Regions from separate parts of the Homo sapiens genome. Here region 1 is linked to region 2. The links come from fine-mapping of genetic effects on gene expression. A gene starts in region 2. The other region holds a variant in brackets. All regions are shown on one strand. Distances are between the middles of the regions.

Region 1 (14,897 bases), 79 kb after region 2:
GAACTAGAGTTCACCACACACCAAGAAACCCCAGAGAAAGAGCAAAGCAGATGACAAAGCCATGTTATTATTCCTTTACAAATTATACCCTCCTGGCCCTTTGGTAGTGTTTTTCCAAGAATGACTTTTCATGAATGCAGTTTGTTGGGGCTAGAGTTCTTTAGGTCTCTCATGTTCTAGTTCCACACAAGATTCAGGTGTTTTTCTTTTCTTTTTTTTTTTTTTTTTTGGTGAGGCAAAGTCTCACTCTGTTGCCCAGGCTGGAGTTGCAACCTCCACCTCCCAGGTTCAAGCAATTCTTCCGCCTCAGCCTCCCAAGCAGCTGGGACTACAGGTGCATGCCACCATGCCCAGCTAATTTTTGTATTTTCAGTCGAGACAGGTTTCACCATATTGGCCAGGCTAGTCTCGAACTCCTGACGTCGTGATCTGCCTGCCTCAGCCTCCCAAAGTGCTGGGATTACAGGCGTGAGTCACCATGCCCAGCCGATTCAGGGATTTTTCAAAAAGAAAATTATTAATTATTGTCAACATAGTGGAATCCTAATTATTAAAGGTGGAGAGACTTTTGAAGCCATTTAAATATTTGGTCCCTCTCATGTTATTATTTATGTAACTTTTAATATATTTGTAAACTAACAGCAATAGTAAAATAATAGTAGCAAAAAATAACCCAGGAGATGTGTTGTGTTCTGTATTTCATTAAGTCATTAACCTTATGTGTGAGAGATTCAAGGCTGTTGTCCATTGTGTAGATGAGAAAACTGAGTTCAGCATTGAAGTGACTTGCCCAGGGTCACTCTACTAGTAAGTGCCAGAGCTGGGACTCATATCTAAAGCTGTTTGATTTTAGGGTTCTTATCCTTTACCTCTATTATGTGGGATCTTGGGAAGCAGGAATTTTTCTGGTTCCCTTCCCGATTCGATTGACCTAGGAAACTAGATTAAAAATCAAAAAGTTACTTGGTGAGAATAGAATTAGATAAAAAGGAGAGGAGACAGTTTTTGAGGCTATTTTATGAATGCCTCTCCTTCCTAACAGCTGGGTGACATTTCTCTGTCACATAGTTCATTCATTCAACAAATATTTTATTTTTATTTATTTATTTTTATTTTTTATTTTATTTATTTTTTTGAGATGGAGTCTCGCTCTGTCTCCAGGCTGGAGTGCAATGGCGAGATCTTGGCTCACTGCAACCTCCGCTTCCCAGGTTCCAGCAATTCTTCCACCTCAGCTTCCCAAGTAGCTGGGATTACAGGCGCCCACCACCGTGCCCAGCTAATTTTTTGTATTTTTTAGTAGAGACGGGGTTTCACCATGTTGGCGAGGCTGGTCTTGAACTCCCAACCTCAAGTGATCTGTCTGCCTCAGCCTCCCAAAGTGCTGAGATTCCAGGCATGAGCCATCACTCCTGGCCCATTTTTATTTTTATTTTGAGACAGGGACTCACTCTATCGCCCAGGCTGGCGTGCAGTGGTGTGATCTCGGCCCACTGTAGTCTGTGCCTCCCGGGCCCAAGCAGTCCTCCCACTTCAGCCTTCCAAGTAGCTGGGACTACAGGTGTGTGCCACCATGCTCAGCTAATTCTTTTTTTGGAGACAGAGTCTCACTCTTGCCCAGGCTGGAATGCAATGGTACAATCTCGGCTCACTGCAACCTCCGCCTCCTGGGCTCAAGCGATTCTTCTGCCTCAGCCTCCTGAGTAGCTGGGATTACAGGGGCATGCCACCATGCCCAGCTAATTTTTGTATTTTTAGTAGAGACGGGGTTTCACTATGTTGGCCAGGCTGGTCTCAAACTCCCCACCTCAGGTAATCCGCCCACCTCGGCCTCCCAAAGTGCTGGGATTACAGGCGTGAGCCACCGCGCCCGGCGGTTTTAGACTTACGTTACAGTGGATAGTGGTGCCCTTCACCATGCTAGGTAACCCTGAGAGAAAATCCAGTTGAAAAGGGTCAGCAGTTTGGTTTTGGATATCCTGTACATGTTGAACAGAGATGTCAGGTCAACAGTTCAGCGAGGGATTGGTATAGTCAGGTCAACAGTCAGACAGAGATGTCAGGTCAACAGTTCAGACAGGGTTTATCTCTGTCGCCAGTATGGAAGCCATCTGTGTATAGGTTAACTTGAGCAAAGAGGGGATGAGAAAGCTAAGGAGAGTCTGTCTGTCTATCTGTGTATTTATCTATTTAGAGATGGTCTCACACTGTCTCCTGGGCTGGAGTGCAGTGGGGCAATCAAAGCTCACTGAAGCTTGGAACTCCTGGTCTCAAAGGAGCCTCTCAAGTACCCAGTACTACAGACGTGCACCACCTACCCAGCTAACTTTTTATATTTATTTTTTGTAAAAACAGGGTCTGACTTTGTTGCCCAGGATGGTCTTGAACTCCTGGCCTCAAGTGGTCTTCTTGCCCTGGCCTCCCAAAATGCTGAGATTACAGGTGTGAGCCACTCAGCCCTGCCTGTTAAGGAGTGTAGAGTGAGAAGAAGAAAGAGCCTAAGATGGCATTTTTGAGGAACTCTACCCTTTACTGGCTGGGTAGAGGAGAATAAGCTTTATAAGCAAAAACACAGAAAAGCAGGAAGAAAACCAGGGCAGCCAGCATTACATAAGCCAAGAAAAGAGGGAGTTTGTTGGTGCAAGTTGGGAAGGGGTAGGGCACCCATGGAAACAATGGTGTCAAATGCTGTAGAGAGGTCAATTAAGATGTAGAGTGAAAATCAGCTGTTGTTAAAACAATTAAGAGACTGGTGGAGTTAGCAGAGGTAGAGAGCAGGCAGGAAGATGAGACAGAAAAGGGGTATAGAAATAGAAGCATGTTTTCAATAAAATTCTTAGTTTGGAGGTACTTTCGTAGTTCATTATATTTTTGTGCTTTATAATGAATATGTTTCAAATATTCTTGTATGTATGAAATAAATATTAAGGCACAAGGGTTGACACTAGAATGAAAGAAAGCCATTTGACAAGCAGATCTAATATGCATTATGCCTAGGACTCTGATCTTGACTCCTAGTCCAGCATGCTTTACCCTCATACCACATTACAGTAACCACTACCTTATCTCCTGCTTCTTGTCCAGCAAGTTTTTCCATATCCTTCTCTGTCCTGCATGGTTTAGTAACTTGCCTCTGTGGGGTTAGTTATGCAGACAGGGTGTGGGTTGGGCAGTATCACCAGGGTCAGGAGGCCAATGTCTCAACCCACCAACTCCTGAAGCTTGGTGTGCTCAGACTGGGCTAATCAGGGCCTGAGGCGTTACACTTTATATTATTCGAATTTAGACAAACCTGCATTTATAACAAAGTCAGTGCGTTAATTACAATTAGGTCCTATGCTTCTAATAGCTGGAATTTTCCTGATTTCTCACTATCACCATCCAACTCCTCATTTTTCTTTCTTCCAGGGTATGTATGTAGATGTGTGTGTGTGTGTGTGTGTGTGTGTGTGTGTGTGTGTGTGTGTGTATTTTTGTTTTTTTGTTTTTCTGAGATGGAGTCTTGCTCTGTTGCCCAGGGTGAAGTGCAGTGGCACGCTCTCAACTCACTGCAACCTCCACCTTATAGGTTCAAGCAGTTTTCGTGCTTCAGCCTCCTGAGTAGCCAGGATTATAGGTGCACACCACCACACCCGGCTATTTTTTTTTCTTTTTTTTTTTTTTTGAGACAGAGTCTCGCTCTGTCGCCCAGGCTGGAGTGCAGTGGCACAATCTCAGCTCACTACAACCTCTGCCTCCCGGGTTCACGCCATTCTCCTGCCTCAGCCTCCTGAGTAACTGGGACTACAGGCGCCTGCCACCCCGCCTGGCTAATTTTTTTATATTTTTAGTAGAGACGGGTTTCACCATGTTAGCCAGGATGGTCTCGATCTCCTGACCTCGTGATCTGCCTGCCTCGGCCTCCCAAAGTGCTGGGATCACACC[C/T]GGCTATTTTTTGTATATTTAGTAGAGATGGGATTTCACCATGTTGACCAGGCTGATCTCGAACTCCTGACCTCAAGTGATCTGCCCACCTTGGCCTCCCAAAGTCCTGGGATTATAGGTGTGAGCCATAGCACCTGGCCTGTTTCGTTTTGTTTTTGAGACAGGGTTTCACTCTGTTGCTGAGGCTGAAGTGCAGTGGTATGAACATGGCTCACTGCAGCCTAGACCTCCTGGGCTCAAGAGATCCTTCCACCTCAGCTTCCTGAGTATCTGGGACCACAGATACTGCTACCACATCTGGCTAATTTTTTGACTTTGTAGAGACAGGGTCTTGCCATGTTGTCCAGGCTGGTCTCAAACTCCTGGGCTCAAGTGATCCTCCTGCCTTGGCCTCCCAAAGTGCTGGGATTACAGGTTTGAACCACGGCACCTGACCGAGGTATATATGTATTTTTTTAGCAGTTAAATTAATAGATTGTTTTGTGAGTCTGGAAATTATAGAAGAAGGAAGTAGATTGAGACCAAAGGATAGTTAATAAATTCTATTCCACCGTGTTACCTTGAACGGGCTACTTGATTCCCTGTAGGCCTCTGTCTTTCTTATAAAACAATAGTGTTAATAGTAATTGCTAACACTTACTGAGCATTTACTCTGTTCCAAGCATTAAGTATTCCACATACATTTATCCTTAGACCCTATAAGGTAGATACTGTTTTTATGCCCATTTTAAAGATGAGAATACTGAGACATGGAGAGGAAAAGTAACTTGTGCAAGTTCACATAGTTGGCAAACCTGGGGGCCAAGATTTCAACCTGGCTTCAGAGCCTGTGTTCTCATTCACTGTGGCATATTGACTTCCTCATAGCAAAGCTGAAATGAACAATAAGGCAGTAAAAAAGAAAAAAATTAGATGGACATGGTGACTTATGCCTGTAATCCCAGGACTTTGGGAGGCTGAGGCAGGAAAATCGCTTGAGCCCTGGAGTTTGAGACCAGCCCTGGCAACACGGCAAGACCCTGTCTCTACAAAAATAAAACAGTTAGCTGGGTGTGCTGGCACACACCTGTAGCTACTTGGGAGGCTGAGTGAGGAGGATTACTTGAGCCTAGCAGGTCGAGGCTGCAATGAGCTATGGTTGCGCCATTGCTCTCTAGCCTGAACAACAGAGTGAAACCCTGTCTGAAACACACACACACACACACACACACACACACTCACTTTTGACATAAATATTTATAACACATGAAATCACATAATGAATAGTTTACACTCTGAATCATGCTTTTATCATTCAATGTTACGAGTACTTTTCATGACCCGTGTTTTTAATAATTCTTCATATCATTATTTATAATGGCTGTAAAATATATCTTGTGTTAATTTCTTTAACCAGTCTTCTATTTGTTGGGTATATAGGCAGTTTAATATTTCATTATTACAAATAATGCCACAATTAAATCTTTGACTGAACTTGCCTGCATTTTTTATTGTTTCCTCAGGATCTGAGTTTGAAAGTGCTCATTTCACCTTATTCTTGCCAAGATTTTTTAAATGTAAACTGTTCTGACCAGGTGCAGTGGCTCATACCTGTAATCCAGCACTTTAGGTGGCTGAGGCAGGTTGGATCGCTTGAGCTCATAAGTTCGAGACCAGCCTGGGCAAAATGGTAAAATCTCGTCTCTAAAAGTACAAAAATTACCTGAGTGTGGTGGCATGCACCTATAGTCACAGCTACTTGGGAGGCTGAGGTGGAAGGATGGCTTGAGCCCAGGAGGCTGAGGCTGCAGTGAGCCAAGATCACATCACTGCACTCCAGTCTGGGTAACAGCCAGATCCTGTCTCAAAAAATAAAACAAAAAAATAAACCTATTCTCATAGGTAAAAACTGATATTTTACCGTTATTTAATGTAAATCATTTCCGAAAAGTCTTCACGTAGACAGCTTTAACTCACCATTCCATTTAGTGATGGATTTTTGTTGGCCAAAGTCTACAGATGTTCCATTTTGATTTTGTCAGTTTCATCTTTCCACCCTAGAGTTAACCCCTTTTTTTTTGTTTTTGAGATGGAGTCTTGCTCTGTCACCCAGGCTGGAGTGCAGTGGTGCAATCTCGGCTCACTACAAGCTCCGCCTCCCGGGTTCACGCCATTCTCCTGCCTCAGCCTCCCGAGTAGCTGGGACTACAGGCGCCCACCACCACGCCCGGCTAATTTTTTGTATTTTTAGTAGAGACAGGGTTTCATCGTGTTAGCCAGGATGGTCTCGACCTCCTGACCTCATGATCTGCCCGCCTCGGCCTCCCAAAGTGCTGGGATTACAGGCGTGAGCCACCGCGCCTGGCCAACCCCTTTGTTTTTTTGAGACACAGTCTGCTGTATCACTCAGGCTGGAATGCACTGGCACAATATCAGCTTTTTCCATTAAGAATTCTGCCCACTGCAGAATTCTTACTGCATACCTACTGCCTAAAGTAGGTAGAAGAAACTCTTTGCAGATAAATTGTAAACTCAGAGAGACTGAGTCTCTGAAGTCACACTGCAAGTTGGTGGGACTGAAAATAATTTTTTATTATTATTCTTTATATAGCACTTTATAGTTCCCAAAGTGCACTCAAATCTATTATTTCATTTGATTTGACCCTCATGATAACCTATAAGGTGGATAGGACAAATGGGCCCTGTTTTTTTTTTTCCCTTTTAATTACATTTATTTTAATGCTGAATTTACTCCTGTGCCATAAGTTTTTGTTTCTTCAGTTTCTTTGGGATATCATTTTCTTCTGGGCAACCTCCTCTTCTGGTTTAGGAACAATCTGTTCCTTTTCAGTAAGGATCATCTCAATGTGGCAGGGAGAGCTCATGGATGGGTTAATCCAACCATGAGCTCTGTAGGTCCAGCGGCACATCTTAGGTGCTTTGTTCACTTGGATATGCTCAATGACCAGAGAATCTACATTTAAACCCTTAAGTTCAGCATTACTCTCTGCATTTTTAAGCATGTGCAGCAAAAATTCAGCACTCTTTTTGGGCCACTGACCTTGTGTCCAGCCCCACTGCTTGGCCTGGGCACACCTGCCAGCTCCACCATTGTAACGTCGGAATGGTACGCACTGTTTCTGTAAAGTGACATCTTTCAGGTACTTCATGGCTTTTCGTATATGCATACCCTTGATGGCCTGGGCAGTTTCACGAATATTCTTAAAGTAAACACGAAGATTGGAACCTCTTGATTTGCATGATATCATGAGGTTCTCCGGGTTAAGTGAATAGTGAACCATTTTCACAGATTACCTCAGGCCGCTTAGGGAAAGAGCAAATGGGCCCATTTTAAAGATAAGAGAATGAGAAATTATATGGATTGTACAGAGTCTCACATAACTTGGAGAATTAAGACCATGCTGCCAAGACAAGATTGTCAGATTACCAGAGAAATCTGAACCAGAGCCCTTCTTATTGCTCAATTATAAGTGAATACTGTTTCCTCTGTGATGATGATACGGAAAAGAAAGCTCTCTCTGTGGTTTGCCTTAAAGGACTGAGAGAGATGAGCAACTTGGCTGGGTGCAGTGGCTCACACCTGTAATCCCAGCACTTTGGGAGGCCGAGGCAGGCAGATCACTTGAGCTCAGGAATTCAAGACCAGCCTGGCCAACATGGTAAAACCCCGTCTTTACTCAAAGTACAAAAATTAGCCGGGTGTGGTGGTGGCTGCCTGTAGTCCCAGCTACTTGGGAGGCTGAGGCAAGAGAATCACTTGAACCCGAGAGGTGGAGGTTGCGGGAGCCAAGATTGCGCCACTGCACTCCAGCCTGGGTGACAGCGCAAGACTCCATCTCCAAAAAAAAGATGAATAACTTGCCTAAAGACACACAACTAGTAAGTGTAGAGTCTGGTTTTGAACACTCAGCCCAGATCTTTCTGCTTTCCTGACCATGCGTCCAGAAACATGTTCCCACCAAGAAATTTTTGTCTTCTGGACCCTTTCCAAGATGTAACTCTAACTACCTGGACATTCTGAATTCTGCTTCTGGGTAGTTGGTAGGACAGGTAAACAGCATTCTTGGAGCCAACAGACACCAGCCATGCAAATACCCTCTTTCTGTGGACAGGATAGTTTTACTTAAGATAAATGCTTCCACTCACCAGTTTTCTTCAATTCTATCTCCTTTCTGACCATCTCTGTGCTTGGGAAAGTAGCTCTTATCAAACACAGGAGAACTGATCATATTGCTGTTTATTTAAAATCCGGTGTAATGTGGAATTTTTGCAATGTTTCAGGATCCATATGACTTAAATAAGATTTTAAAAATAAATTAGCTGAGCATGGTGTTGCACACCTGTGGTCCTAGCTACTTGGGAAGCTGAGGTAGGAGGATTGCTTGAGCATGGAAGGTGGAGGTTGCAGTGAGCTGAGATCACACCACTGCACTCCAGTCTGGGCAACAGAGGGAGACCCTGTCTGGAAAAAAAATAAAATATGTTTTCTGTTTTTTTTTGTTTTGAGACAGAGCCTCGCTCTGTCACTCAGGCTGGAGTTCAGTGGCATAATCTGGGCTTACTGTAACCTCCACCTCCTGGGTTCAAGCGATTCTCCTGCTTCAGCCTCCCAAGTAGCTGGGACTACAGGCATGCGGCACCACACCCAGCTAATTTTTGTACTTTTGGTAGAGATGGGGTTTCACCTTGTTGGCCAGGCTGGTCTCAAACTCCTGATCGCAGGTGATCTGCCTGCCTCAGCCTCCCAAAGTACTGGGATTACAGGCATGAGTCACCACGCCTGGCCAAAAAAAGTTATTTACATAAATTCAAACAATAACAGAAGTACATAAAGTAAAAAGAAATAGTCTTTTCTTCCTTACTTCTTATCCAATCCACTGTTAATAGTATGATGTATCTTTTTAGACTTTGTTCTTTATGTATACTTATATGCACGTGTGAATGTTTGAATGTGTGTGTATGTTTTATACTATATATTCTCTGAAACTTGCCTTTTACATTTAACATTAGATTTTGGACATCTTTCCAAATCAGTGCATTTAGATTTATCTTTATTTTTAGAATGCAGTTGCATAGTATTTCATCAAATACTGGGCCATAGGATGTATGTATGTATTTTAAAAAACAAGATGTTTTTAGCAAAAGACAACAGATATTTTTGTGGGTGCATCTGGTTTTAGGCCTGAGGCTAAATGACTTTCAGCAAATTATTCATCTTTGAGCCTCAGTTTCCTTATCTATAAAATGAGGATAGAAATACCTTATGTATCTGCTGAGCATGGTGGCTCATGCCTGTAATCCCAGCACTTTCAGAGGCCGAGGGGGGGGCGGATCACGAGGTCAGGAGATCGAGTCCATCCTGGCTAACATGGTGAAACCCTGTCTCTACTAAAAATACAAAAAAAAAAAAAAACAAATTAGCAGGGTGTGGTGGCGGGCACCTGTAGTCCCAGCTACTCGGGAGGCTGAGGCAGAATGGCATGAACCTGGGAGGCAGAGTTTGCAGTGAGCCGAGATCGTGCCACTGCACTCCAGCCTGGGGAACAGTGTGAGACTCTATCTCAAATAAATAAATAAATAAATAAATACCTTATGTATCAGAACATGTCAAAAAAGGCAAAAAATAAAAAAGAGAAAAGAATTTTACATTGTATTCTCTAAAAAAAAAAAAAAAAAAGAAATACCTTATGTAGTTGTGAAGATTTAAATTCATTCATTAATTTAGCAAACATTTTTTGAGGGCCTTCTGTGTAGTATTGGCTAGTGTATTTGATGGTATTGTATAAACTGAGAAGCCTATATATGGAAGTTCACCATGAGAACACTACAGAAAGAGAATACTACAGGATGTGTGCCTCTCTTTGTCTCTTCTTGCTCATCTTAGTGATATCTCTGAGTCTCTGCTTGATAAGTGCCTCTATACCAACCGCTCTCCTCATCCTGACATCTTGATACGGACTTCTGGAGAAGTGCGGCTGAGTGACTTCTTGCTATGGCAGGTAGGTCATTTCCAAGTACTATTATGTTTGTGTCATGGGGAAACCAACTGTATCCACAGAATGGATCAGAGTGGTCCATCCCCACTCCCAAACAGGCTGGGGCCAGAGTACTTCTGGGGAAAGCTAAAATCTGGAGAAGCATCTCTAGGCTGTGTCTCATAATATTTGATGTCCATTCCTCATCTGTCGCTGGCTTTGCGAATCCAACTATAGTGAAAACTTCATTGTGCCGCTTTTCAAGGAATGGGACTTCTGTCTTGCATCCCTGAGCGTAAGCTCTTGCCTTGGTAACCTGCCAGGGACCCTAGCCCCTCTGGGTTGGAAGCTTGCCTTGCAGTTACTAGTCCCTCCCCTTCAGGATAAAGGGCCATACCTATGCAAGCATGGTAAACAATATGCAAACACTCAAGTCTCTATCCCCTGTTAACTTGGTCCCTGGAGAGCACATAACTAGGGGAAGTCCTTGTTCTGGGAGAGACTCCATTTGGAAGCAGCTCACATGATAAAGCTCCAGAAATTTTAATGGACCACAATCTTAAAAGTGAGCTAACGCAGGGCGTGGTGGCTCACGCCTGTAATCCTAGCACTTTGGGAGGCTGAGGCAGGCAGATCACTTGAGGTCAGGAGTTTGAGACCAGTCCAGCCAACATGGTGAACCCCTGTCTCTACTAAAAATACAGAAATTAGCCTGGCATGGTGGCAGGTGCCTGTAGTCCCAGCTACTTAGGTGAATGAGGTGGGAGAATCACTTGAACCTAGGAGGCAGAGGTTGCAGTGAGGCGAGATCGTGCCACTGCACTCCAGCCTGGGCAACAGAGTGAGACTCTGTCGCAAAAAAAAAAAAAAAAAAAGAAAAGAAATAAGTACAATGTGCACCTATTGGTTCTGTGGCCCACTGTGCTGCTCAGATCACGTTTGGGAAGTTTACTGATGGGCTGAATTTTAAGAGACTACAGAGTCAGTTACTCAGTGTACAGAATTAGTTACATTGACAAACTTGAGGACTTACTGGAAGAGGCCAAACTGGAAAGCAAGGAATCTCATGTCTTACAAAAAATGAGGAAAGGATAGTGGTCTGCAAAAGGGAAATAAGTGACAATGTATTCCCTTGGAAAAAAGTGTTGAGTTCCTTCTTTATGCTGGAAATATGGCAGTGAGTGAGTCAGAAATGATCCCTACTGTCTTGAAACTTATAGTTTGCTAGCAAAGACAAACTCTGAACAAGTCATTACAACTTTGGGAACTGATAACAGGCAGCTCTAATCTAGCCTTGAAATACTTGAAAGAATGTCACTTTGAAGAAGAAACAAACTTGTTCCAGAAAAAATACCTGGGACCTTAGTAGAAGTTGTAGGGAAGGTGACATTGGTTTAGCATAAAAAGCCAAACAGGCTATCGGACAACTAGTTATCCCCCATGAGGTACTGAATTCCTCACCACTAGAGATATCAGGCAGTGGCTGTCAAGAGTGTTCCAAAGGGGATTCTTCATCAGTGATTATTATTAAAGTACACCTGGCTCTTTGCTATGCATATGTTATCTCATTTAATCTAAACAGTACCCTGAAAATTAGGTATTCCTATTATCCAGTTTTACATTTGAGGAATCTCAGGCCAGGTGAAATTACCCCTGCTCAAATAAATGGTAAATGGTTGGAGCCAAAATTCAAAGCCAGGCAGTCTGGCTCCAGAGCTCATGCTCTCAACCACTGTGCCCTGCTGCTGGTACTTAAAAATAACAATGGCAGCTACCATTTGTTCATTGGTGACCTTTATCAGACAGTATGTCTTCCAGATGCCCTCTAAGGGCCAAGAGCCAATAACATAATCCAGATGTTATTTCATAGTCCTAAAATTGGCTCTTAGAAAAATCCTGGTGGAAATGTTGATCTAGTCTCGTTTTAGTTCTGCTTTACCACAGGCAGGTGATCTGGCTGCCTCAAGTGACGCCTCCCCCTACTAGTGAATGAATCAGGGCCAGCAGCAGCTGCAGCTACAGCTCAGGATGCCTGTAACATTGTCATCTCTGGGCTTCTGGGTCCTGCTTAGCCTGCTTTTTCCCTGGAGGACTGACCAGGGATGCGGCCCAGCAACATGTTACTAAATCATACTCTCCTCCCTACCTTTCCCAGACCTCTCACTCCTGCCTGGTGTTCCAACCCGTTCTGTGGCCAGAGTATACATTTTGGAACCTCTTCGAGGCCATCCTGCAGTTCCAGATGAACCATAGCGTGCTTCAGGTAAGAAAGAGTTCAGGGCTGGCCAGATGGGATGGGATGGAAGAAAAGATTAGCATTGATTGACAACCACCTTACTATATACCAGGCACTTCCTAATAAGATGATGATAATGATGATAGTAGCTACCACCTACTGAGTATCTACTACTTGTCAGGCACTGCGAACATTTTACATGCTGCAACTCATTTAATGTTCCCAAGAACCCAATGAGGGAAGTCTTATTAGCCCCTCCCTTATGTAAGTAAGCAAACAGAAATGATTTAGTTAAGGACACATAATCAGTAAGAGGTAGGAATAGGATTTGAGCTACAGGTCTTTTATCTTTTAAAGACTCAGGAGGAAAAGGCTTCTCAGAGAAACTGGCCATTATTCCTTTAAAGTATTACCCTAATAAAAGATCGTAGCAGTAGGGATTAAGAACTAAATAGCATTGTCTTTCCATTGTGTAAACCTATGTTGTGTCAAGACTTGAAGTTTGACTTTCAGTTTTCATCACCAAATCTTGAAACAGGTTTTATTAGCAGTCACCTGTATATGATTAGGTCTCTTTATAATAATGGTAGTGGTAGCTAACATATGAGGATCTACGAGGGCACTTAGGTGATTTCATGTAAGTTTTCTTATTTAACCTAACAACCCAGCAGTTTTGGTGTCCTCATTTTTCATATATGGAACCAGAGGGGCAGAGAGACTTAAGTAACTGTCCCAAGGAACCTGAATTTTATCTTTATTTATTTATTTATTTTGAGATGGGGTTTTGCTCTTGTTGCCCAGGCCGGAGTGCAGTGGTGCGATCTGGGCTCACTGCAACCTCCCCCTCCTGGGTTTGAACGATTCTCCTGTCTCAGCCTCCCAACTAGCTGGGATTACAGGCACACGCCACCATGCCTGGCTAATTTTTGTATTTTCAGTAGAGACAGTGTTTCACCATGTTGGCCAGGCTGGTCTTGAACTCCTGACCTCAGGTGATCCGCCCACCTTGGCCTCCCAAAGTGCTGGGATTACAGGCGTGAAGAGCCTGAATTTTAAAATCAAAGCTGGTGCTGCTTCTTCAGTCTGGAGAGATAATGCCAGGAGGAAATAATGATGTGAGTCAGGGATTCTTAATCTCCTTGGTATTGGGGTCCCTTTGAATAATCTAATGAAAGCCACAGACCATCTCCCTAGAAAAATCGCAGATCACTCAAATGTGGAATTTTGCATAGAATTGTAAACTTATCATGGAAACACATAGAATACTTTTTTTTTTTTTTTTTTTGAGACGGAGTTTCGCTCTTGCGGCCCAGGCTGGAGTGCAATGGCGCAATCTCGGCTCACCGAAACCTCCGCCTCCCGGGTTCAAGTGATTCTCCTGCCTCACCCTCCCGAGTAGCTGGGATTACAGGCATGCGCCACCAATCCCAACTAATTTTGTATTTTTAATAGAGATGGGGTTTCTCCATGTTGGTCAGGCTGGTCTTGAACTCTTTACCTCAGGTGATCCGCCCGCCTTGGCTTCCCAAAGTGATGGGATTACAGGCATGAGCCACCAAGCCCGGCCACACATAGAATACTTTAAGGGGGTTCACATAACTGCTGAAATCTGCCCCTGAATCCCAAGTCCATAACTCCTGCTATAAGTAAATCAAATCACAAAGACTTGATCATGTATTTAATTACTTAGTCTCAGAATATGAGGAAATTAAAAGAAGTTTAGAATTAGTGAAAAGAAAAACAGCAAAGGCACAATTATCCACTGTCAGTGGGGAATGAATATCAGATTTTTCCATATGACCAAAGCTCCCTCTAAAAACTAAAACTTTACCCTTTTTTGATGGAAAAATTTCTAAAATGTATCTTGTACATAATTCATTGAAATCTATATACCAGGCACTTGCTAATAATGATGATGATTAGGATAATCACGTGCTATTTTTTGTTTTTTTTTTTTTTTAGCAGGGTCTCACTCTGTTGCCCAGGCTGGAGTGCAGTTGTGCAACTTTGGCTTACTTCAGCCTCCCAAGTAGCTAGGACTATGGGCACACACCACCATGCCTGGCTGATTTTTGTTATTTTTTGTAGAGATAAGTCCTCACTATGTTGCCCAGGCTGGTCTTGAACTCTTAAGCTCAAGTGATCCTCCTGCTTCGGCCTCCCCAGGTGCTAGGATTATAGACATGAGCCACCATGCCTGGCCGTCATATTCTAATGATTATGATAATAGTAATTATCATCTTTAAACACTTCATTGTACAACAATATCCTTGAGGGGTAGGGCTGTTTGCTCTAAGTTAGATGGTCCCAGAATACCTGGGTTTGAGGTTTCATGTATATTTTTCTGTGTCCTCCCTCTTTCATTTCCTACTGCTGTCAACAGTTAATTTTGACAGTATCTCTCCTCTTCCATAGTATTTACTGTTTTAAATCAGCTATAGACAAGGAAACCAGATAGTCAAGCTTGTTGGAATTATGTATATAAAATGAGAGTGAACTGGCTCTGCATGAAGCCCAAAGGAGCTTGGTGCATGAGTTTTTGTGTTTTTACCTCTAATTGGGCTGCTCAGAAGTCTTTTATAGTAATTTCACGTTTCTCAGATACTTTGCATATGGTTGTCAGAGGAGTTAACTCAAGTTTCATTCATTCCATAAGTATTTATTGAGTAGTATGAATCAGGCACTGTATTAGGCACAGGAGAGTCAACAGGTAGCCAGAGGGACAAGATCTCTACCTTTGTGGAACTTGTATTCTTGAGGAG
Region 2 (15,582 bases):
CAGGCTGGGGGACAGGGAGCCCCCTGTACCTCCCAGGGCCATGGGCCTATGACAACAACCTAATTGTGCAGCTGATTCTTCCTTCATATCCCCATTACCTGCTGGGAAACAGGTGAGTTAGAGGTAAGCTGTGAAGGTCCTCCAAATAGGAGTCTGAGTTCTAGGACTGGCTCTCCCATTAACATGCTGCATGACCACAAGTTATTCATGTCCCTTCCTGGACTCAGTTTCCCTATCCGCAAAATGGGAAGGTTGGTCTAGTTGATGCGTAAGGATTCTCTCAATGTTGACATTTAGAAGCCAGTGATGCTCTCCTGGTGGGTGTGGGAAGATTAAATAGAGATTGGCCAGGTGCCGTGGCTCAAGCCTGTAATCCCAGCACTTTGGGAGGCTGAGAAGGAAGGATCTTTTGAGGCCAGGAGTTCTAGACCAGCCTGGGCAACATAGTGAGACCCCCATCTCTACAAAATAAAAAATATGGTGGGCGGGGTGGCTCAGGCCTGTAATCCCAGCACTTTGGGAGTCCAAGGCGGTTGGATGACCTGATGTCAGGAGTTCAAGACTAACCTCGGCAACATGGTGAAACCCTGTCTCTACTAAAAATACAAAAATTAGCCAGTCACGGTGGTGCATGCCTATAATCCCAGCTACTCAGGAGGCCAAGGCACAAGAATCACTTGAACCTGGGAGGTGGAGGTTGCAGTGAGCCAAGATCGTGCCACTGCATTCAAGCCTGGGCAACAGAATGAGACTCCTTCTAAAAATAAAATAAAATAAATAAAAAAATAAAAAATAAAAGGGAGACCCAGGCAGATGGATCACCTGAGGTCAGGAGTTCGAGACCAGCCTGGCTAACATGGTGAAACCCCCATCTCTACTAAAAATCCAAAAATTAAAATTAGACCAGGTGCGGTGGCTCATGCCTGTAATCCCAGCACTTTGGGAGGCTGAAGCGGGCGGATCACCTGAGGTTGGGAGTTCAAGACCAGCCTGACGAACATGGTGAAACCTCGTCTCTACCAAAACTACATAAATTAGCCGGGTGTGGTGGCGCACGCCTGTAATCCCAGCTACTCAGGAGGCTGAGGCAGGAGAATCGCTTGAACCCGGGAGGCAGAGGTTGCAGTGAGCCAAGATAGCACCACTGCATTCTAGCCTGGGTGACAGAGCAAGACTTTGTCTCCAAAAAAAAAAAATTAGCTGAGTGTGGTGGCTCACACCTGTAGTCCCAGCTACTAGGGAGGCTGAGGCAAGAGAATCGCTTGAACCCAAGAGGCGGAGGTTGCAGTAGCCGAGATCATGTCACTGCACTCCAGTCTGAGCAACAGAGTGAGACTCGGTTCAAAAATAAATAAATAAATTAGCTGGGTGTAGTAGCCTGTGCCTGTGGTCCCAGCTACTTGGGAGGCTGAGGTGGGAAGATTGCTTGAGCCTGGAAGGTTGTGGCTGCAGTGAGCTGAGATCACACCACTACACTCTAGCCTGGGCGAGGATAGAGCAAGACCCTGTCTCAATCAATCAATCAATCAATCAATCAATGGAGATTAGCCAATCAGAAGTGAAGAGCAGAGCTCTCCTGAGAGGAGAGGAAGGCCCTCACGGAGCTTACTTCCAAGTAAGTGCAGAGATCTGAGGGAACATTCCAGATTCCTCAGGGCTACAAAGAAGCCACCCCCTTCTGTGCTGAGAGGGGTCCCTGACTCTACCAACCAGAGGCCCCCCACCAAGGGGAATCCTGCATCCTAGCTCACCCAGATAGCTCTTCTGGACAGCTGAGGACACCTCAGTGTCGTGTCACCCAGGCTGCCCAGCTCAGCGCTCTCACCAGGAATAAAGCCTGAATGAGTGGACCAAGCCCCCGGATGCCCCTGACTGGCCTGACAGAGAGACGCGAGTGCCCAGCTGTCTGCTCATCCAGCACCAGGCTTCTCTGCCATCTTCCACCTGAGGCCACACAGCACAGGGAACACTTCAGCCCAGCAAATGCCCCAAGACCCCTTCCCCGTCACCTCAGGGACCACTCTTTGAATCCCAAATGCCCCTCAGACCCTAAGACCCTCACTCCAGTGTCTCAGCCCTCTAAAACCCCTTCTCCTTTCCCTCTTTCCTCACTCCTCCCAACGCTGCTTCAGGTCTCAAAGCAAATACCATGGACCCCCGAAGGGCTGCTGGCTGTGGGGCTCTCCACTCGGTGCTGCAGCAGTGCTCCTGGCTGGGAAGGAAGGAGGTGGGCAGCCAGGCCACAGCTGCCTGTGGCTGAGGCCCCAGTGGGAGTGAGAGATGGCAGGAAGGTGTTACATTTGAAGTTGCCACAGATAGGAAGTGGGGGCAGGCAGGCTTGGGGGCCCTGCAAGGTCTGACAAGGGGGCACTATCCACTCAGCTTTGCCTACCTGTGGCAACTCTGGAGGACAACCTGCTGATGTGGATTGCAGTGAACTGGGGCTACTGGAATTTCAGGATGTGTGTGTGAGGGGGGCGGGCTGTTATTTCTGTTCTCAAAGTACCCAGATGGCTGGACGGGAGGACAGAGTAGGGCTCAAAGGCTGAACAGGGGAGCCTTCTGTGGAGGGGAGCCAAGCTGAGATGAAGATAGGCATTGATGATGACAGGGAGACAGTGATGGTGACAGGTAGGGACAGGAACAGGCAGAGACAAGAACAGGCAACATAGAAGGATATGGAATGAGACAGAGGACAGAGAAGGCAGCTGATCTCACAGAGATACAGCAAACACGTTTTCCTCCTCCAAGTCCCATCTCAGATCTCCTGACCCTGGAAAGTTCTATCCTCTAATCTAGAGGCCCCAAGAGGCAAAAGATAATTCAAGCACATGGCCAGGTGAAGTGGCTCACATCTGTAATCCCAGCACTTCAGGAGACCAAGGCAGACCCATCTCTTGAGCCCAGGAGTTTGAGATCAGCCTGGGCAACAAAGCAAGACCTCATCTCTACAAAAAATACAAAACTTAGCTGGGCATGGTGACTTGCACCTCTGGTCCCAGCTACTCAGGAGGCTGAGGCAGGAGGATCACTTGAGCCCAGGAATATAAGGCTGCAGTGAACTAGGATATTGCCACTGCACTCTAGCCTGGGTGACAGAGAAAGACCCTGTCTCTTTAAAAAAAAAAAAAATAGACATAGCAAAATGGGTGTAAGGCATGACTAGGCCAGGTGTGGTGGCTCACATCTGTAATCCCAGCACTTTGGGAGGCTGAGGTGGGCCAACTGCTTGAGCCCAGGAGTTCAAGACCAGCATGAGCAACATGGTGAAACACCATCTCTACAAAAAATACAAAAATTAGCCAGGCATGGTAGCGCATGCCTGTTGTTCCAGCTACTCAGGAGGCTGAGGTGGGAGGATCACTTGAGCCAGGGAGGTCGAGACTGCAGTGAGCTGAGATCATGCCACTGCACTCCAGCCTGGGTGACAGAGCGAGACCCTGTCTTAAAAAAAGTTAATAAATAAGGAAAAGACATGTCTAGATACAAAAAGGGAGACCTCATAGGCCAGAAAGTGGCTTTTTAGCCTGAGCAATGTCATTATTCTTGTGAGCATGAGAAGAGGCATCACCCCTGCGGCCTTACACAAATTCTGGTGTGCGTGAGTCTGGCCCAGGGTGCAAAAGCCCCAACCAGCCATCAATCTGCACCCCAGCCACGCCACCCTGGTGTCCCAGAATATACAGGGACATCTCAGGCTGTGCACCATGGGCTGGGGCATGTTCCTGGGGTTTCTCTGCCAGCTCAGCCCCTAGGGCTGTGACTCATCCTCCACATAACTGATCCCAACATGTTTGTGAGCATCTCAAGGACAGGGTCCTCTGTCTACTCATTTTGGTTTTCCATGTAGACATCTGTCAGGTTTTTTTGGACGCCCAGCCTCTGAAACTTTTCCCCTACATGAGTCTTGAGGGAGGCAAAAGGTACCTCCCATTATAAAAGCCGAAATGGCCAAATACTTAATTCCAACCTCCCTCACCAGCACTTCATGCAGGCATACATGGACTAGGTCGATCAGATGTCCCCACCCAGAAGGGGTGACCCGCACACCTTTGGCTTCCATCTGCCAGCTCTGCCCTCTCCTGGCATCACACTCTGCTCCCAACTCTCAGAACACCTTGCACAACTTCTCTGTTAGAAAAAAATAAAAACTACTTCCCCTCTATCCGCACTTCCCAACCTACTCTGGTGATCATGGGCTTTCCTTGGCTTGGGTCTCTGGTCTGGGTCAAGGCATCTGCTCAGGTTCCTCAGTTAGAAGACCATGGTCCTCCCTTTGTGCTACCTCCCCAGGGCATGTGGGACAAAGTGACATCACATTTAGGCCTGTGACATCACAGGGCATGGAGGCTGACAAGACAGATGATCTGGGAGACGAGAGCAAGGAAGGGCTTGGCAGGCAGAGGCTGCTCCATGTGGGAACCTGAGGGAGTCTGTCTTAGCCCACCTCCTGGGACATTTCCTTGCCAAGCCGAGTCTTGTGAGCATGAGAAGAGGCATAACCCCTGTGGCCTCACACAAATTCTGGTGTGCGTGAGTCTGGCCCAGGGTACAAAAGCCCCAAGCAGCCATTAATCTCCACTGCAGCCCAGTAGACTAGCAGATCAGAAGCTAGTGCCACTGGCTGAGCGCAGTGGCTCACGCCTGTAATCCCAGGACTTTGGGAGGCCGAGGCGGGCAGATCACTTGAGGTCAGGAGTTCAAGACCAGCCTGGCCAACATGGTGGGACCCCATCTCTACAAAAATACAAAAATTAGCCAAGTGTGGTGGCACGTGCCTGTATTTCCAGCTACTTGGGAGACTGAGGCAGGAGAATTGCTTGAACCCGGGAGGCGGAGGTTGCAGTGAGCTGAGATGGCTCTGCTACACTCCAGGCTGGGCAACAGAGTGAGGCTCCATCTCAAAATAAAATAAAATACAATAAAAAAAGCCACTGGTCCTGAGGTGGCAGGTCTGTGGAAACTCCTCTCTACAACAAAGGCTGTGGTACCACATCCGGCTTCCAGGGCAGTGAAGGAAAGAAGGGGGTTCAGGGGAGGCTGCAGAATCTGTGCAGGGCTGGTCCTGGGGTGTGATATTTGGCCATGGTCCTGTCTACTTCCAGCCTCCCTTGATCCATCCTATTCTCCAAGCCTTGCTCTCCAGCCTTCTCAGACCTCCTGCGAGCTTTTCTAACATCTTTTAAACAAATTCCTTCTGCTTAACTCCTCCTGAAATGGTTTTTGTAGCTTACAACTGATAATTCTGCATTATACATGCCCAGAATAGAAGATAAAGTAACAGGGTTCCAGCTGGAATTGTCCAAGGAACAGAGTAAATAGCCACCTTTACAAACAGCTTTCTTGCTGTGTCTGGCACTGTGCTAGGGGCTTCATAAACTTTATCTCATTTAGTCTTCACAATAAGCCTGTGTGGTGGATTTTATTATTAGCAGCTCATCCAGAGTCACACAACAAGTAGCCAAGAGCTCTTTAGTGGTAAACCTCAGACTCTGCCATCTCTTGGCCATGTCAGCTTCCCCCACTACGACAGCCACCCCCTCATTTCTTTCTTTCTTGCTCTCTCTTCCCACATGCTGTTCCCAGTCCTTCCCCCAACTCCTCAGTGGCCCCCTCAGTATCCTTCAGCGTAATGGAGGGGCTTAGTTCACCAAAACTCTACTCCCTAAAAGGAAGAGCCCTCTCAGACCCCCAGGCCACAAGCCCGCCTCCCCTGCTGTCTTGCTGGGAATCACAGGGAAGTGAGGGGCACCGAGTGAAGTTTCCTCCCCTCCAAGGCACTTCCCCACACACCTTTGGCTTCCATCTGCCAGCTGTGCTCCCTCCTGGCATCACACTCTGCTCCCAGCTCTCAGAACACTTTGCACAACCTCTCTGTTAGAAAAAAATAAAAAAGGAAATGGCCTTGGAGATTTCCAGGTCTCCAATCCTGAAAGCTCCCTGGCTTGGCTAGGAAATGCCCCAGGAGGTGGGCTGAGGACAGACTCCCTCAGGTTCCCACGTGGAGAAGCCTCTGCCTGCCAAGCCCTTCCTTGCTGTCATCTCCCAGATCATCTGTCTTGTGTCATCCATGCCCTGTGATGTCACAGGCCTAAATGTGATGTCACTTTGTCCCACATGCCCTGGGGAGGTAGCACAGAGGGAGGACCATGGTCTTCTAACTGAGGAACCTGAGCAGATGCCTTGACCCAGACCAGAGACCCAAGCCAAGGAAAGCCCATGATCACCAGAGTGGGTTTGGGAAGTGCGGACAGAGGGGGAGTAGGGAGCTGACTCCAGGTGCAAGGGGCACATTCGGGAGGCCTCTGAAGAGGAGGTGCCTCCACATTAGGGGACAAGAGCTGGAGGGGCTGGGTCCTTGGGCTCCCGGTGCTCACTGCACACTTTCTTCTTCCTTTCGTTAGTTGCAAAATAATACATACTAGTGGTAAACATTTCAAACAACAGAAAATGTAAAAACGAAAAATGGAAGCTCCTCCTCCTTCGCAATTTCCCAGTGGTCAATGTGAATTGTTTAGTGTTTACCCTTCCAGACATTTTTCTATGAACCAACAAACAGGTAAATTGATTTTTTTAATTGCTTTTTTTTTTCCTAAGGAATGAAGTGACTTATTGAAAATGAAAGTACACTCTGCAGTGTGGGAGCAGGCCTGAGCATAGGGGCTCAAAGGCCCCATTACAGAGTTTTTGAGAGTTTAAATACCTTCTGCTTGTGGTACGCCCTATGTAAATGAAGAGAATGAAGTAAAGTTACAATGTCATGTACTCAGGGAGAAGCTATTTCCTGTCAGAGCTGAAGTGTGAATTGGCCTTATGTTTCCTGCCTCCAGCCCCTATTTTCCTGCCTCATCTCCCCGCTAAGAGATGTGATTGTGGTCCCCGTAAATCTTCACGGGAGGCAGAGGGACCGATGGTCTTTTTCCTGGGACTGCTTCATGCTGGCATGGGGCGTAGTCCCTACTTATTGGGGATCATGGAACCCTCACCTTGTTCTGTCTAGTGGAGGCAGGGTAGCTTCTTGATGGCCAGGGGTGGTGTCTTCACCTGGACTGGCTGGAGCCTTTGTTGCATGATCATCTGAAGCTTGATGGCCTCCTTTTGCTGGTATGCCAGGTTTCTGGGCTCTCTTTCCCTGAGCGGCCCTTCCTCCGGGCTGGCTGGCCAAAATATGTCACTGGTGGGGGGTGTCCAGGTTCTTGGCATCTTGAACAAAGAATTGGACAAAAAGCAGAAACAAAGCAACGAAGAAATGAAGGGATTTATTGAAAATAAAGTACACTCCACAGTGTTGGAGTGGGCCTGAGCATAGGGGCTGAAAGGCTAAATTGTGTTTTATACAAACATGGGAATATATTGATGCACATTGCTCTTCCGGGTTTTCTTTTCTTTTCTTTTCTTTTTTTTTTTTTTTGAGACAGAATCTGACTCTGCCTCCCAGGTTGGAGTACAGTGGTGTGATCTTGGCTCACTAGCAACCTCTGCCTCCTGGGTTCAAGCAATTCTCCTGTTCAAGCTGGGACTACAGGCATGCGCCACCAAGCCCAGTTAATTTTTTTGTATTTTTAGTAGAGACGGGGTTTCACCACATTGGCCAGGCTGGTCTCAAACTCCTGACCTCAAGTGATCCACCCACCTTGGCCTCCCAAAGTGCTGGATTACACTTTGGGAGCCACCATGCCCAGTCTCTTCTGGGTTTTCTAATAATCCATTGTGGGCATCATTTCATGCCCTGAACATACCTATCTGCCTCCTGCTTTTTCCTGACTATATAATGTTCCATTGCAGGGTTGTGCTTAATATGTAGCCTTCCCCTGTTGGTGGACATACGGGTGGGATCCAATTTTCCCCTTTCTACACAAGGCTGGAAAAGACCTCCAGACAGAGTCAGTATGCGGAATGGTTAAGAATACGAGCTCTGCTGGATTTAATCCCAACTGGGTAAACTTATGGCAAATCACTTAACCTCTCTGTGCATCTTTCCTCATCTGTCAAATGGAGATAATAATAGCACTTGCCTCATAGAATTATTTCCAGGTTTCCTCAAGATAATCCATGTAAAGCCCTTAGGATGGTGCCTGGCCCAAAGCAAGCACTTGACCAATGTGGATGACTATATTGTACATTACCCTTTACCTAGTTAGGCAAGCATCTGCAAGTCAGCTTCTTAAAAGTGTTAAAATTTTGATGGTTATTCCTGACCCATTTTGGAAGATCGAAATTTGGGCAGCACAATTGGAGAGATTAACTACATTTAGTTTTCTTGCTTTATTTATTGACCCTTCCCTGGTTGGGGATCATTGCTCTCATTCAATGCAGTCTTCTCCTACCCCATCCACACACCACAATAATAATAGCTCTTGGCATGGGAGCCCTCATTATATGCCAGGAACCATGCAAAGCCATTCCACACGCTTTGTCTCACTGGATCAGCAGAGTGACTCTGGGAGATGAATGCCATTATTCCCATTTTAGAGGCAAGAAAACTGACACTCAGATAAGGAAAATGACTCACTTAAGATCAGATGACCTGGCTGGGCGTGGCTCATGCCTGTAATCCCAGCACTTTGGGAGGCCGAGGCGGGTGGATCACCTGAGGTCAGGAGTTCAAGACCAGCCTGGCCAACATGGTGAAACTTTGTCTCTACTAAAAATACGAAAATTAGCCGGGCATGGTGGTGGGTGCCTGTAATCCCAGCTACTTGAGAGGTTGAGGCAGGAGAATCGCTTGAACCTAGGAGGCGGAGGTTGCAGTGAGCTGAGATCGTGCCATTGCACTCCAGCCTGGGAGACAAGAGCAAAACTCAGTCTCAAAAAAAAAAAACCAAAAAACACCACATGACCCCAAAGTGGAAAGCATAGAAACAGAGAGTAGAAAGGTCTTTACCAGGGGCAGGGGCCTGGGGTGTAAGGGAAATGGGAGATGAAGGTCAAAGGGTACAAAGTTGCAGTTACTTAGAATGAATAAGTCTAGAGCTGTAACATACAGCATGAGGATTATAGTTAGTAATATTATATAGTAGACATTTGCTAAAAGTAATTTTAGGTACTTTTACCGCACACACACACAAAAGGTAACTGTGAGGTGATGGATGTGTTAAATTGCTTGACTGTAGTAATCACTTTACTGAGCATATGTGTATCAAAACATCATGTTGTAGATCTTAAATATATACAATTTTAAAAGAAACACATGACCCAAGTTGAGGTTGTAAGTCCCAGAGGTGAGGGAGAGCTTAGGGAAGACTTTCCAGGCATTTGAAGAAGTAAAAAGTGCCACAAATATGTTTGGTAGAAGGGGCTCCCAGAAAAATTAAGACAAACAGAGGCCATCTTGAAACGAGCTGCAGAATTAGCATCTGGTACCCTGCAAGAACGTCATTCATTCACATATTTATTTGCCTTTTCTTTCTTCCTTCCTTTCTTTCTTTCTTTCTTTCTTTCTTTCTTTCTTTCTTTCTTTCTTTCTTTCTTTCTTTCTTGTTGTATTTTGGTAGAGACAGGGTCTGGCTGTGCTGACCAGGCTAGTCTCAAACTCCTGCCCTCAAACAGCCTCCCAAAGTAATTCACATATTTATTAATTACCAGCTATGTGTCAGGCATTGGACTATTTTCTGGGAATACAGCCCATAGAAATATGACTCAGACCTTGGAATTACATTCCGGCTATCAAGAAGCTTGCTGGATGTTGTGAAATGGAAAGTAATGTACATCTGAGCTTATTATTAGGAGGGTAGGGGCTGGAGGAGCAAAGTAGAACTGGGGGTGGGGTTGGCTGACTCATGCACCAAGAAAGGGAGACAACGGAACCACAGCCAGAAGCCCCACTTCCTCCCTGAAAACCTTAAAAACTTCTTCAACCCATATCCATTGCCACCTCCAACCTTGAGGCCAGCCAGCTGACTTCCCAGTCAGCTCAGCACATGGGTCCAGGACCTCTGTCACATGGACACTTTTGAGAGGCACCAGGTAAGGACCCCAGGTCAGGAAGGGATCTGGGACGTCACTGGCTTAGAGGTTAAGCAGCTGTAGGGTGTGCCTCCACAGGCAGAGCTGAGGGTGGGGCTGACAGTGCTCTTGCCTGGCTCTGCTCTGTGGTTGACACCTCCCTCCCTCTGCCTGACACCCACATGCTTATCTCCCCAGACAGCCCAGCTGTCAGTCTGTCAGATGCATTTGAGTTGGCCCTTGGCTTCACACCCCAAGGTGGGGAAGAGATCTTGAGTTAAGGCGTGCCTGCTCTTACATTTGCAGAAGGGGCCTACAGACACTCTTGCGTCTTCCCCTGCACCCATCTGTGACCTTCCAATCCTTCTGTGGGTAAAATTGCAGATGCATCTTCAAATGATATCCAAGGTCATGCCACTTATCCTCAACCATTCCAAGAGAATAGGAGACAAGAGGTCACCTTGCTTGGATTCAAATCCAGCAGAGCTAATGTAATCTGAGCCACTGTGCAAAACTGCCCACCATGTACATGTATGTCCTTTCCAGCCTGGTGTGGAACGGGGCAAAATTAAAGTCCACCTATATGTCTACCATTAGAGGAAAGCTACATATTATGTACATCCATGCATCAGAATACTATGCAGCCAGGAAAAAGCAGGAGGTAAATTTACTCAATGCCTCCTACATGCCAAATCTCTTTATGATCATCTTATTTAATCGTCCTCAAAATTCTCCAAGTTGGCCAGGCATGGCGGCTCACACCTGTAGTCCAAACAATTTGAGAGGCCAAGGTGGGAGGATAGCTTGAGCCCAGGAGTTTGAGACCAGCCCGGGCAACATAGCAAGACCCCCTTCCCTACAAAAAATAACTAGGCATGATGGCATGGGCCTGTAGTTCCAGCTACCTGGGAGGCTGAGGCAGGAGAATTGCTTGAGCCCTGGAGGTCAAGGCTGTAGTGAGCCATGATTGTGCCTGCCACTGCACTCCAGCCTGGGCAACAGAGTGAAACTTTATCTCAAAAAAAAAAAAAAAAAAAAAAAAAAACTCTCCAAGGTAGGAATTTTTAATGTCTCCATTTTATGGATGAGCAGACAAGACTCAGCAAGGGTATACCAGGTAGTATCAACTCAAATGCCTACAGTGGCCATGTAGTTAACATAAAGTGATCCAAGAATAAGTATGATAAAATTGTTTCCTGACACTCAGTCTTGGTTTCAAGCTTCCAACAGGGAAGGGTTGGGACTGAGGCAAACCAGAGAGCATGGTCCATTCTTAAAGATCAGCCACTACTCAGAATAATCAGGGGCCAGTGTTGCCAGTCTTCCAACTTTTCCAGAGAATCTGAAAATCAGGAGTTGTACATGAAATCTCCATATTTTTTAAAAGAATGGCTCCAATGTCTTTTTTTTTTTTTTTTTTTTTTTTTGAGACAGAGTCTTGCTCTGTCACCCAGGCTGGAGTGCAGTGGCATGATCTCCCTATTGGAGATCATGGAACTCTCACCCTGTACTGTCTAGTGGAGACAGGGTAGCTTCTTGATGGCCAGGGGTGGTGTCTTCACCTGGAACTGGCTGGAGCCTTTGTTGCATGATCATCGGAAGCTTGATGGTCTCCGCCTCCCGGGTTCAAGAGATTCTTCTGCCTCAGCCTCCCCAGTAGCTGGGAAGACAGGCACGTGCCACCACGCCCGGCCAATTTTTCTATTTTTAGTAGAGACGGGGTTTTGCCATGTTGGCCAGGCTGGTCTCAAACTCCTGACCTCAGGTGATCCACCCGCCTCGGCTTCCCAAAGTGCTGGGATTACAGGCGTGAGCCACTGCGCCTGGCTCTCCAATGTCTTAAAGTAATGTGTATGCCAATCAGAATAGGTCTGTGTGTCAGATTCAGCAGCCTCTGCCCAAGGTCCCAGAGCCTAAGACCTTTCCACATTTCTAGCTGTCTCCAAAGCCATGGCCTTGACTGTTTTCACTAAACACTTAAATAATGTCAAATCTTCACAAACTCTTCCAAAAAACAGAAGAGGAGAGAACATTTCCCAACTCATCCTATGAGACCAATATTACCCTGATATCAAAAAACAATGACAGGCTTGCTGCAGTGGATCATACCTGTAATCCCAGCACTTTGGGAGGCCGAGGCAGGAAGATTGCTTGAGCCCAGGAGTTCAAGACCAGCCTGGGCAACACGGTGAAACCCATCTCTACAAAAAAAATTTAAAAATTAAAAAAAAAAACAAAGATCATAAGAAAACTACAGACTAATATCTCTTGTGAGCACAAATACAAAAATCCACAACAAAATAGAAGCAAGCAGAACTCAACAACATATAAAAAGGGTTATACATCATGAGTGAGTGAGTTTTATCCCAGAAATGGTTTAACATGCAAAAATCAATTACTATAATATACTATGGCAGTGGAATAAAGGACATGATCATCTCAATAGGTGCAGGAAAACGATTTGACGAAATCCACCACTCCTTTTTGGGATAAAATACACTCACCAGGCCAGGTGCAGTGGCTCACGCCTGTAATCCCAGGACTTTGGGAGGTCAAGGTCGGTAGATCACCTGAGGTCGGGAGTTCAAGACCTGCCTGACCAACATGGAGAAACCCTGTCACTACTAAAAATACAAAATTAGCTGGGCATGGTGGTGCATGCCTGTAATCCCAGCTACTTGGGAGGCTGAGGCAGGAAAATCGTTTGAACCCGGGAGGAGGAGGTTGCGGGGTGAGCTGAGATCGTGCCATTGCACTCCAGCCAGGATAACGAGAGTGAAACTCTATTTCAAAAAAAAAAAAAAAGACGACTCACCAAACTGGGAATAGGGAACTTCCTCACCCTGATAAAAGGCTTCTACAAAAAGCACACAGCTAAGATTGAATTTAGGATGAGAGGTGAGTTGTTTTCCTCTTCAGATCAGGAATGAGACCATATCCACCCTTACCACTTCTATTCAACACTGTCCTAAAGGTTCTAGCCACGGCTACTAGGCAAAAAAAAAAAAAAAAAGAAAGAAAAAAAAAAAAGAAAAAAAAAGGCACCCAGATTAGAAATTAAGAGGTAAAACTGTTTGTATATACAGAGGACATAATCTTGTACATAGAAAATCCTGAGGAGGCCCGGCTCGGTGGCTCATGCCTGTAATCCCAGCACTTTGGGAGGCTGAGGCAGGTGGATCACCTGAGGTCAGGAGTTCAAGACCAGCCTGGCCAACATGGCAATAAAAATACAAATATTTACCGGGCACGGTGGCGGGTGACTGTAATCCCAACTACTTGGGAGGCTGAGGCAGAAGAATTACTTGAACCCAGGAGGCAGAGGTTGCAGTGAGCCGAGATCACGCCATTACACTCCAGCCTGAGCAACAAGAGTGAAACTCCATCTCAAAAAAACATAAAGAAAGAAAGAAAATCCTGAGGAATCCACAGAAACCTATTGAAACTAATGCAAGGTTGCAGGATACAAAACCAACAAATGGTGCTAAGAAAACAGAATACCTACATACAAAAAGAGTTGTATCCCTGGCTGGGTGCAGTGTGGCTCATGCCTATAATTCCAGCACTTTGGGAGGCTGAGGCAGAAGGTTCGCTTGAGCTCAGGAGTTTGAGACCAGCCTGGATAACATGGCAAAACCTCTTCTCTACAAAAAAAAATACAAAAATTAGCCGGGCGTGGTGGTGTGCGTCTGTACTCCCAGCTATTTGGGAAGCTGAGATGGGAGGATCACTTGGGCCTGGGAGGTCAAGGCTGCAGTGAGCTGTGGTTGGGCCACTGCACTCTAGCCTGGGCAACAAAGCAAGACCCTATCACAAAAAAAAAAAAAAAAAAAAAAAAAAAAAAGTTGTGTCGGTTTCTCTTATCATATACAAAACTAAACTCAAAATGCATCGTATACCTAAATGTAAGAGCTAAAACTCCAAAACTCTTAGGAGAAAATATGGGAGCAAACCTTTCAGACCTTGGGTTAGACAAAGCTTTATTAGACACAACACAAAAAGCACAAGCAACAAAAAATAAAGTAGGAAAATTGGATTTCACCAAAATTAAAAGCCTTTGTGCTTCATAAGATTCAATCAAAGGAAGTGTAGGATAGCTGTATATATATTTTTTAAAATAAAAATAAAATAGGCTAGGCATGGTGGCTCACTGAGCGAGACTTTGTCTCAAAAAAAACCAAATAAATAAAATAAATAAATAAATAAAATAAAGGAAAATAAGCATTGTTGGTGGCCGGGTGCGGTGGCTCACCCCTGTAATCCTAGAACTTTGGGAGGCCAAGGCAGGTGGATCACGAGGTCAGGAGTTCGAGACCAGCCTGGCCAACACGGTGAAACCCCGTCTCTGCTAAACATACAAAAAATTAGCTGGGTGTGGTGGCATGCGCCTGTAATACCAGCTACTTGGGAGGCTGAGGCAGGAGAATTGCTTGAACCCAGGAGGCAGAGGTTGCAGTGAGCTGAGATTGCATCACTGCACTGGGCAACAGAGACTCTGTCTTGAAAAAAAAGAAAAAGCAAGTGTTGTTGGCAAGGATGTAGAGAAATTGGAACTCTCATACATTGTTGGTGGAAATGCAAAATGGTCCAAGTGCTATGGCAAAACAGTTTGGTGGTGCCTCAAAGGTAAAGAATTAGCATATTCCACTTCTAGCATATACCCAAAATTGGAAACAGGTACTCAAACAAGCACATATGCATTCGTGTTCATAGCAACATTATTTGAAACAGCCCAAAAGGTAGAAACAGCCCATATGTCCATCAACAGATGAATGGATAAATTGTAGTGCATACATACAGTGGAATATTCATCCATAAACAGGAATAAAGTATTGATACATGCTGCAACGTGGAGAAACTCCAAAACATTATGCTAAAGCAAATAAACCAGACACACAAAAAGTCACAATTGTATGCAATTGTATGATTCTTTTTTTTTTTTTTTTTTTTTGAGATAGAGTTTCATTCTTGTTGCCCAGGCTGGAGTGCAATGGCGCGATCTCGGCTCACAGGAACCTCCGCCTCCTGGGTTCAGCGATTCTCCCGCCTCAGCCTCCCAAGTAGCTGGGATTACAGGCAAGCGCCACCACGCCCAGCTAATTTTGTATTTTTAGTAAAGACAGGGTTTCTGCATGTTGGTCAGGCTGGTCTCGAACTCCTGACCTCAGGTGATCCACCCATCTCAGTCTCCCAAAGTGCTGGGATTATAGGCTTGAGCCACCGTGCCTGGCTAATTTTGTTTTTGTTTTTTTTTTTTTTGAGATGGGGTCTCCCTTTGTCACCCAGGCTGGAGTGCGGTGGCACAATCATGGCTGCCTGCAGCCTCAACCTCCTGGGCTCAAGCAATTCTCCCACCTCAGCCTCCTGAGTAGCTGGGACTGTAGGCATGCACCACCACACCAGGGTAATTTCTTTTTTTATTTTTAGTAGAAACAATGTCTTGCTATGTTACCCAGGCTGATCTTAAACTCCTGAGCTCAAGCAATCCTCCTGCCTTGGTCTCCCAAAGTGCTGGGATTGCAGGCATGAACCACCTTGCCCAGCCCTAAAATGGTTGCTTTTAAGTTATATTAATTTCCCCTAAATAAATTATTTTTTGAAAAAGAATGTGAAAAGACAACCCACAGAATGAGATAA

Alleles and levels. Alleles are on the strand shown, and positions count from the first base shown. SD is a standard deviation of normalised expression in the study named.
With allele C in place of T in region 1, the expression in pituitary of the gene that starts at base 4,266 in region 2 is higher (large effect, 0.84 SD a copy in GTEx).

Evidence for each region. PIP is the estimated chance that this variant, and not a neighbour inherited with it, causes the effect.
Region 1: its variant is the best candidate, but not a certain one, in a credible set for the expression of ZNF683 in pituitary (GTEx, PIP 0.77).

What each region holds. Positions count from the first base shown.
Region 1 is chr1:26,447,983-26,462,879 of GRCh38, forward strand. It overlaps DHDDS (dehydrodolichyl diphosphate synthase subunit), which reads left to right. Exons shown (of 9, transcript NM_205861.3): 7 at 9,809-9,923; 8 at 12,055-12,162. It overlaps DHDDS-AS1 (DHDDS antisense RNA 1), which reads right to left. Exons shown (of 3, transcript NR_125953.1): 3 at 14,774-14,888. It also overlaps the pseudogene RPL17P9. Among named protein-coding and RNA genes, the nearest start is that of DHDDS-AS1, 12 kb to the right of the region's middle. The variant C/T (reference allele first, on the strand shown) is at 3,925.
Region 2 is chr1:26,368,485-26,384,066 of GRCh38, forward strand. It overlaps ZNF683 (zinc finger protein 683), which reads right to left and starts at 4,266. Exons shown (of 6, transcript NM_001114759.3): 1 at 4,185-4,266; 2 at 1-101. The coding sequence starts at 87. RefSeq lists a cis regulatory region at 9,554-10,447 and an enhancer at 9,770-9,979.